2 separate regions of the Homo sapiens genome follow, and region 1 is linked to region 2. Evidence: fine-mapped expression QTL. Tissue or cell type: whole blood. Region 2 holds a variant in brackets; the other region holds the start of a gene. All regions are shown on one strand. Distances are between the middles of the regions.

The links. PIP is the estimated chance that this variant, and not a neighbour inherited with it, causes the effect.
Region 1: OR4D1 starts here. The variant in region 2 is the best candidate, but not a certain one, in a credible set for the expression of OR4D1 in whole blood (TOPMed, PIP 0.81).

The regions. Positions count from the first base shown.
Region 1 is chr17:58,146,056-58,151,170 of GRCh38, reverse strand. OR4D1 (olfactory receptor family 4 subfamily D member 1) reads right to left here and starts at 2,787. Exons shown (of 4, transcript NM_001386095.1): 1 at 2,587-2,787; 2 at 1,375-1,742.
Region 2 is chr17:58,168,382-58,173,591 of GRCh38, reverse strand. OR4D2 (olfactory receptor family 4 subfamily D member 2) reads right to left here. Exons shown (of 2, transcript NM_001004707.4): 2 at 2,476-3,954. The coding sequence starts at 3,936. The coding sequence ends at 3,013. Among named protein-coding and RNA genes, the nearest start is that of OR4D2, 4.0 kb to the right of the region's middle. The variant G/A (reference allele first, on the strand shown) is at 2,770.

The sequences.
Region 1 (5,115 bases), 22 kb after region 2:
TTGTTGTTTTAAAGAGAGAATTACAAAATATTTTGATAAACTATAGTATAAATATAAAGGGAAAAAATGGACATGGAAAACCAAAATGTTACCAGTGTGAATAGTGGTTATCTCTGGTTGATGGGATTGATGGAACATATATTTTCTCTTCTTTACAAAATTTTTTTTATTTCTTGTAATTTATAAATTGTCATAAAATTTTAATCAAAAAAAGCAAAAGAAGTATTATAATGAGACCAAGAAAAAGAAAAGGTAAGAGCTGAAAAACTTCTTAGCATGAGCACTGTCGGGGCGAAAGACAACCGCAGGTGTGCAAGGGGAAGGGTTCGGGGAAGGAGAAACCTCAGAACACTGAGGAAAAGGGAGAGAGAGAAAAAGAGGAGGAGACGCAGTGTGGGAAAAGGGAAAGCTCTTCTGTAAAAGAGAGGAGAGAAGGAGACCGTGATTCCCAGGACTGTTGCAGAACCGCTGGATTCCTCCCCTCCTCATAACCAGTTCTTCAGTTTGAGTGTCACTGTAATGGCTAAAGCCCGTCAGTAACCGTGGGTTCTTTCAGCTCCATCTGGCACTGTGAGCTGCCTGTCATTATTATGAAATCATTCTTGCTACTTCTTTACTCTAAACCCAAATACCTCTCTGGCTCTCCTATTTCTGTCTGTTATCCCCTCACCCAGCTAGACTTCTCCCTTGAACTCCACATGTATTATCACCAAGGCATATTCGTTCTTCCTTTGAAATTACTGCCAAATTATTTTTCCTATCTGGCTTATTGCTGTGGGCCTCCAAGTGGGTTCTTGCCTCCAGGTTTTGGTCCATTTTAATCCACACTGTGCAACATAGTACATACATAAACTTCTTCAACAACATCTTCCCCCTCTATTTCAAAAGGTTTTCAAAAATTTTCCATGGCTCTTTATTGTCTACAGGAAGGAATTTGTACTTAGTTAGGATTTCAGGGGCTTCCACACAAACAGGCTCCTACCTTTCTTTCCAGGTCCATCTGCCACTTAATAGTAGTAGTAGTAAGCATTTATTGTAATTGTAGTAATGGTAATAACTGTGGTAGTAAGCATTTATTGTTGTAATAGCAGTAATTGTCATCGTAGTAAACATTTTTTGAATGCTTACTATGTGATAGACACTATACTAAATATTTTGCTGGCATTATCTTTTTTAATTCTCACATATTATTCCCATGTTTATAAGTATAGTAAGTACCATAAATTATCTCCACTTTACAGATAAGTAAACTGTGGCTTGAATAGGTTAACTAATTTCTCCCAGATCACATGGAGAAGAAGAAGCAGAGCTGGGATTCTGAGCCAGGTCTGATTGACCCAGAATTTGCACTCCTAATGACTATTCTCCTCTTACCTGCTCTCCTCTAAGAAGATTCAGCTTCAGCCAAACTTATCTCTTCTTCGGTCCCTCAGGTCTCAGTGCCTTCATCCAGTCAGTGCCGCATCTGAATTGCTTTTCTGTCCTGTTCACCTGTCTGAATTCTACCCTTCCTTCAAGGTTCAAGAGTAATTAGCTCTTCCATAATGTTGCTATGCCTTGGTATTTTTTCATGAGGATGGCTCTGTTCCTCACATGTGTTGTAATTTCAGTGCAAATCCAATATGTTAAGTATTACACAGTACGTGGTACACACAGACCCTTTCTCATAGTTGGTTCCCAAAAGAATGTGTGATTGCTTAATGGAGGACAGGGTGCTGGGATGGGCCAGACTGCCGTGAGAGCTGGGAAGAAAGAGAGAGTAGCCACTGGATAGAATGCAGTTTATAGGACCTCAAAGAGAATCCAAGAATCCTAATTCCCAGCATCACCAGATTTACAATCCTAGAAGCATCATCTTAGCATGGCCCGATTCTTTCCACAAACCCATCAGAATCTTTGCAAATGCTTCCTCCCCCTACATGCATAGAAAATAGATTTAGAGGGATTCTAGACAAGAAAGAAAATAGACATAGGGAGGGACATGGATCTGTATGGGGAAAGGGGAGGATTCTAGACCTCTTCTGTTGTTACTCAATCTTCTCTCCCATCTGTCTTTGCTCTTAGAAAATCAGCCCACACAGGACTAGGAGAGACGAGGGGAGAAGGAATAAGTGGGTTCCCAAAATGGGGTAGAATCTAGTCTGTTGTCATCCAGGGAGCATTAACAGGTATTGTTAAACACAAGATTTAAGAAAAGAGAGGATAAGATGGAGGGACAGCAATAAAGAAGGGAAGAAAATCTGGAGTGAGTGAGAGAAGCAGGCAGGAGAAGGGGGAAGATGGAGGAAGATGAGACTTAAAAAGGAACAGTAGAGGGTGGAAAGTGTCAGAGCAAGACCTGTTTGTGTTTTCTCCTAGGTGTGGGAAGAAGCTGTAGTATGTATGTGGGAGGCGGGGGAGATAACAGTGTATGTCTATATTCCGCTCTCCCTCCCACCCTCTGTTCTAAATTCCACCCAGCACATAAGCCAATACAGACAAAAGTCTTAATGTTAGATAAAATCAATGTTTCCCAAATCCCGTTCCCCTTGCATTAATGCCTGATGACTTCCCCCATGCCTTCCCTCCACCCCATGCTTGTCTCACGATAGGCTTTGTCGTGCTGATTTGTCCATGGGAAGGACAATGAGGCCATCACCTTCCTCCAGCCCACAGTGGCCAAGAGGACTTAGAGCCTCCCATCTCCCAGGTCACTCTTCTCCTGTAGCTCCATTCTTCTCCTGGCCTCTCTCAGACAAGGAACACATATGGGATTGGCCTTAAGGAAAGGGAAATTCCTTGGGGAGTAAAACTTAGGCTTAATTCATAAGATAAAGCCTGGCTCAGGCTGCTAAGGGCAAATGAGCAATGGGAGTTATTAAAAAGTATGTGAGATGTTGCATCAGATGCACATAATTATTGGGAGACTGTCTTGGGGCCAACATTTCAGAGTTACTGATCAAAGGACCAAGATGAAGAAGGATAAGAACCCTAAAGAGACGTGAATTCCCAGGGAGGTTTACAAGAACCAAATCCCTCAGCACCATGGGCAGTGCAAGGCCTCCACCCTCTCCTATCACCACTGTAGTTGGAAAAGTGAGTTATGTCCTAGGACACAGTCCAGGTCACCCCCTCTATAAACTCCAAAGCCTTTTTCATATGTACAGTCATTAAGGTACCATCTCTTATCCCAATCTCTGATCTGCTCTTCTCTCAGCCAAAGTGAACTCTCAATGTAAATTGGCTAAGTTCATCCTCAAGATATAATTCAACTACCATAAGCTTCACAATTATTAAATGATTTTAACCATTCAGTGGTTTTTAGTATATTCACAAACTTGTGTAACCATCACCACTACCTAATTCCAGAACATTTTCTTCGTTCTGAAAAGAAATCTCATATCCTTTAGCAGTCACTGCCCATTCTGTTCTCTCCTCAGTCTCTGGAAACCACTAATCTACTTTTTGTCTCTGGATTTGCCTGTTCTGGACATTTCCTAAAAATTGAATCATATAACACACATATGATGATATATGGCTTTTGTGTCCTGCTTCTTTCACTTATGTTTTTAAGTTTCATCTGTACTGTAGCATGTACCAGTACTAGTCATGTACCAGTCATTCCTTTTTATGACTGGATAATATTACATCATATGGATATACCACTTTTGTAAATCAGTCAGTCAGCTCTCGGACATTTGAGTTCTTTCCACTTTTTAGCTATTATGAATAAAGCTGCTAGGAATATTCATGTATAGGATTTTGTGTGGATGTATTCTTTCATTTTTCTTTGGTATATAGCTAGATGTGGAATTGCTGGATTTTATAGCAACTGTGCCTAATCTTTTGAGGAATAACCATCTTACTTAGAATAGTGAGAGTGAAGTGGCATCTCATAATTTTCGCATTTGTATTTATAAAGAATATGGTCTGTAGTTCTTTTCTTGTATCTTTGTCTGGCTTTGGTATCAAGATAATGCTGGCCTCATAGAATGTGTTAAAAAGTGTTCCCTTTGCTTCTGTTTTTTTTTTTTTTTTTTACAAGAACTTGCATAGTATTGGTGTTCATACTCCTTTAAATGTTTGGCAGAATTTACCACTAAAGCCATCTGGTACTGGACTTTTCTTGGTTGGGAGGTTTTTTAAACACTGATTCAACATTTACTTGTTATAGGTCTGTTGAGACTTTCTATTTCTTTTGAAATCAGTTTTGGTAATTTGTGTTTCCAGGAATTTTTCCATTTAATCTAAATTAGCCAATTTGTTGGCATATAGTGCTCATAGTACTCTCTTACAATCCTATTAATTTTTGTAAGGTTGGTAGTAATGTTTCTGATTTTATTTATTTGCCTCTTCTCTTTTTTTCTTAGTTTAGCTAAACATTTATAAATTTTGTTTATCTTTTCAAGAACTAACTTTGGTTACATTGATTGTATCTATTGTTTTTCTATTCTCTACTTCATTTATCTCTGCTCTAATCTGTATTGTTTTTTTCCTTCTGTTGGCTTTGGTTTTAGTTTGCTCTTCTTTTTTTAGTTCCTTAAAGTGTAAAGTTAGATAATTGATTTGAGACGTTTTTCCTTTTTTATGTAGGATTTTACAGCTATAAAATTCTAAGTATTGCTTTCACTGCACCCTGCGTATGTTGTGCTTTTGTTTGCATTCACTTCAAAGTATTTTCTGATTTCACTGCTGATTTATTCTTTGGCCCATTTGTTGTTGGAGAGTATGTTGTTTAACCTCCACATATTTGCAAAATTTCAAGTTTTTCCTTTGTTGTAGATTCCTTCATTCCATTGTAGTCAGAGAAGATACTTTGTATAATTTAAATCTTTGAATATTTATTGAAAATTTTTTATGGCCTAACGTATAGTCAATCCTGAAGATTGTTTCATGTGCACTTGAGAATGATGTACATTCTGTTGTCTTTGGGTGTTCTGTAAATCTCTTTTAAGTCTAGTCAGTTTATAATATTTTTCAAGTCCCGTATTTTCTTATTGATCCCGCTCCAGTTTTCTTTTGGCTACTATTTGCACAGAATATCTCTTTCCATCCTTTTATTTTAAACCTATTTTTGTCTTTGGAGCCAAAATAAGTCTCTTGTAAGCAGCATATAATTGGATTGTGTTGTTTTTT
Region 2 (5,210 bases):
GAAGAAAAGAAATTAGCAGAAACTTCCTGAGAAAAAACAGACATTTGACTTAACTAGACAAAGACTTTAAAGCAACTTTCTTGAACATAGAGTAAACTATGGGTAAAGAATTAAAGGAAGAAGAATGTTTTACATAGAAAATATCAAAAAAGAGAGAGAAATTGATTTAAAATAAGAAATAGTCTGGAGCTGAAAAGTACAATAAAAGTAACTGAAATGAAAAGTTCACAGGACGGTTTCAATAGGAGCTTTCGAGTAGGTAGAAGAAAGAATCAGCTGGGCCTGGTGGCTTACACCTGTAATTCCAGCACCTTGGGAGGCCGAGGCGGGTTGATCACGAGGTCAGGAGTTCAAGACCAGCCTGGCCAACATGGTAAAACCCTGTCTCTACTAAATATACAAAAATTAGCTGGGTGTGGTGACACGCGCCTGTAGCCCCAGCTACTCAGGAGGCTGAGGCAGGAGAATTGCTTGAAACTGGAAGGCGGAGGTTGCAGTGAGCCAAGATCACACCATTGCACTCCAGTCTGGGCAACAGAGTGAGACTGTCTTAAAAAATAAAAATAAAATCAATGAATCTGAAGATAGGTTAGTTGAGTTCCAAGATTTCTGTTTGACATTTTGGAATCATTTCAGTCTCTTTGTTAAATTTCTAAATTGCTTTTCTGTGTTTTCTTGGAGATCAGTGAGTTTCCTTGAAACTCCTATTTTGAATTCTTGGTCAGAGAGCTCACTAATCACCATCTTGTTAGGATCAGTGACTGGATTTTTGCTTTTTCCTTTTGAGGAAGTCATAGTTCCCTGTTTGCTGTTGTTTCTTGTGGGTATGTATCCATCTTTCCAGTTTTCTCTGTACAGCTTGTTTTGGTTTTTATTGAATACATTTGCTTATTGAATCTTCACTGCTAGGTCACTGCCTCTATTCGACTCTAGGTGGTGCCTTAAGCCCAGGTTCACCTCAGGACTAGTAAATGGTTGAAGCACTTCCTGTCTCAAATCAAGGAGATCCCAAAGAGATTATCCTGGCAGTGTGGGAAGTCTGGCTAGGGGTTTGTGCCCAGGGGACCTGGGGAACATGCCTCCTACAGCATGGTGCTGCTGGACAGCAACTCTGAGTTGGTGTCTCCTTTGGCTGAGTTACAGAGCAGAATTTCTCTGCCTTTCTTCGGGGACATTTCTTCTTTCAGGCAGTCATGATGCTATCTGTGGATTAAGGCAAGAACAGTTCTCCTGCCAGGGACCCCAAGAAGGTAAGGAAGCTGGTGGGCCACCTCAATTTCAGTTTTTCCAGTGTAGAAACTGTAGTTGGGAGGAGATTTTTTGGCACTTGGTGCTGGACAGAATGGGGATGAGGGGTGTCCCAGATGTGGAAGTCTGATTCTCCTATCAGCTGCTTGGACTTTTTTCATCCCTCTGTGGCCCCAAGAACTGTCTCACTCTTATACTTGAGCTCTGGGTTGTTTCTGGTGTAGATCTCAGTGCTATATATTTGTTTTTGGTTCTGTGGAAGTCGGGGAGTGAATCCAATTTTCCTCTATGATGGCATTTCGGAATCAGAGGTCTAGAGATATTATAGGTCAATTGAAATCATCCAGTCTAAGGAGCAAAAAGAAGAATAAACGAAAATGAACATAGGCTCAGAAGCCTGTGAGACACCATCAAGGATACCAAGACACACACATAATGAGAATCCTGGAAGAAGAGGAGAGAAAGGCGCAGTAAAAATAGTTTAGGCAATAATGGTCACAACTCCAACATGGAGAAACCCCATCTCTACTGAAAATGCAAAACTTAGCTGGGTGTGGTGATGAGTGAACTCCGGCCTCGGCAGCAGAGTGAAACTTCGTCTCAAAAAAAGCACTCTCCAATAGCCAAAACCTGGAAACAACCCAAATAAACTTATTTTCACAGTGGAATATTCTACAGCAGAGCAAATGAATGAATTAGAGCCAAACATCAACATGTTATGTTAGAAACATAACATGGAGTGAAAAAAGCAAATCCCAGAATATTATGTACAGTACAATATCTTTATAAAACTCCAAAGTAGCAAAACAATATACTGTTTATGTAAAAAAAGTGATGAAACTATTTTATACAAGCAATGAAGTGATAAACATGAAATTCAACAGAGTGATTTCTTCTGGATAGGAATCAAGGTGAACACAATGGAGAGGACAATACAGGTGAAGGCAAGTTATTGGTAACTTCTGGTTCTTGAATCGAGTAGTGTATACATGAGCATTTATACATAATGACATAAGTTTCATAATGTGCATGCATTGCCCATGATCTTTTATTCAAAATTTGTATATTATATTAAAATGTAAATATAGAGAGAAAAAGCTTGAATACTCATAATAATTTCATATTTGAAAATAAAATACAATCATTTTTAAAAGCTTGGAAGATAACATATAGTTATATGATTTACTTGTTGTTTTATCACAAAATTTTTTTATTTGAATCTCATAACAAACATAGAATATTTTAGGGGCACATACTAATTTAAGCAAATTGGTGAGGGAGAAATCATGAGGCCAAGAAAAGCTGGGTGGCTTACTCGAAGTCATCAGTTTGGTCAATGATGGGTCAGGGCCTCTAATTTAGAGCTTAAGACTCCAAATTCTGTGCTGTTCCCAACAACCCAGACTCACACCAAAAGGAAATATTGGGAAGAGAGCTCAAAATACGGAAAATAGAAATGTTCGCACAGGGGAAATGCTGTCAACAGGAAACTGTCCACCAAGAAGGTGAAAAGGAAGGTGT[G/A]GTTTTCAGGGGCCATGTGAACAATTCTCATTGTTGCGAGTGTGTTAAAACTCTTTATCACAAACCTTAACCACCAAAGAGGATACTTTCTTTTTTCCTAAAACACGAAGTTGCTTAGTTTCAAAATTCATTCCCTGCTATGATGAACCTCAACACACTATGAAGAGAGCAAAGGTAGTAGCTCCCTCTCCACTTCACAAAGGGAAAACAAAGCCAAAGAGAAGAAACCTACCATTGTCACTCTCAAACCAGCCGGTGTCTCCCTAATCTTCTCACTGCTGCCTGCATGTCCTGGTTCCTCAGGGTATAGATCATGGGGTTGAGCATGGGGGTCATGACTGTGTGGCCGATGGACACAAGCTTGTCCATAGGGAATGGAGTGAAGGGCCGGGCATAGAGGTAAATGCTTGGAACGAAGATCATGGAAACCACGATGATGTGGGTGGTGCAGGTGGAAGCTGCCTTCCTTCTTGCCTCCCCTGGATGTGACCTCAGCATCACCAGGATGAATAAGTAGGACATCAGGAGGAGGAAGAACCAGACGACATCCAGCAGCCCACTGTTGGAGATCTTGAGGAACTCCAGCAGTGAGGTGTCAGTGCAGGCAAGTCTCAGTACTTGGGGAACATCACAGTAGAAGTTATCCAAAATGTTGGGGCCACAGAAGGGCAGTGGGAGCATCAGAGCCAGCTGGACAATAGAGTGGACAAAGCCTCCCACCCAGGTGGCTACCACCAGCCCCACCCAGAGCTGAGTGTTCATGACGGTGACATAGCGGAGGGGCCGGGAGATGGCAATGAGGCGGTCAAAGGCCATCACTGAGAGGAAGAAGACCATGGCACCTCCCAAAAAGTGGAAGAAGAAGATCTGACCCATGCAGCCCTGGTAAGAGATGGTTTTCTTCTCAGAGAGGAGGTCCACTAGCATTTTGGGAGCAGTGACTGAAGAGAAACAGAGGTCTAGGACAGCCAGGTTTCGGAGCAGAAAGTACATGGGTGTGTGGAGCTGGGAATCAGAGGTCACTGTGATGATGATAAGGATGTTTCCCATAACAGTGGTGATGTAGACAAACAGGAACATTAGAAACAGGAAACGCTGGAGCTCCCGAGTCTGCGAGAGCCCCAGGAAGACAAAGTCTGATACCCACGTGAGGTTCCCTGTTTCCATGGTGTTTTCTCCATACACCTGAAGAAAATGAACCACAGACACAGATACATGAAGTCACTACTTTCCCTTTCAGGGCTCAGGGGCTCAGAACCAAGGTTTTAGGCCCATATGATGAGCATCCTTATGTGTAGACCATTATACTAGGTGCTGTCTTGTCTCTGGATCGTTTACAAGTGGGTGCTGGAATATACATTCCTGAAATCTTAACGCCATCCAGAAGTATATACAACCTGCCTTTCAAAGATTCATATAGTGGTGGGAAGACACTTGGAGTCAGATACATCTGAAGTCAAATTTCAGGTCTTTCATTTCATTGTGATTTGACCATGAGTAACTTACTTAATCTTTCTGGGCCTCAGTTTTCACGGGAATTTGTAAGGTAGAAATAAAAATACCTGCTTTGTAGAATTTTCTGAGGACTTAAGTAGAATGATAGATATAAAGTTCCTAAAACAGTGTATGGAATAATCAATGGCAATTACTCACCTGTGTGAATTCTCTTAATCTAAAGATATCCTCTCTTCCACTCTGTAATAAGATTCTTTGCCAATTATTTTTCACATGACATTTAATACATCATCGTGTTAATGGATTTTCCTTGTCTATATTTTCCCTCCACAATTCAACTATTAAGTCCAAAGCCTATATCTGGATCTCACAATTTATTTGTGCCCTGCAGTACCCATTCTTAATGACAGTTAACTTAAAAAGCTCTTGGTGTTGACTGCTGCATGGGTGAATAGCTATCAGGTGCACAAGTTCAGCACAAGGAAGACACTGGATGCAGCTGGATGCCTGAGACATCCAGTAGTTCCCCTGCCCTCCACTGTGGGCGGCCCCTTATGAGTGAGGCATATGTGGTGGTGCTGAGACAAGAGGGAGAAAAGGGAGGGAGAGTCATTGGATTGAGAAATAGATGATGAATATTGTATGAAGGGGACTCAGAGAGCTTCTGAATGAAACAGGAATTTTACAAGATGTTACTGAATCCAAGGGTGGGAGACAAAGGAAGTTGTTGAAAGAAAACAAATAGAAATAGACAAAGGAATAAAGGGAGATGAAGGAATAGAGCAAGTGAAGGTAAAGGAAGTGGAAAAGTGCTGGGGAGGTGGAGAAAACGGGACTAAAGGGACAGAAGAAGATGGAGGAGCCGGGAGAGGTGGCTCACGCCTGTAGTCCCAGAAATTTGGGAGGCGGAGGCGGATGGATCACTTGAAGTCAGAAGTTTGAGACCAGCCTGGCCAACATGGTGAAACTCCGGATCTGTACTAAAA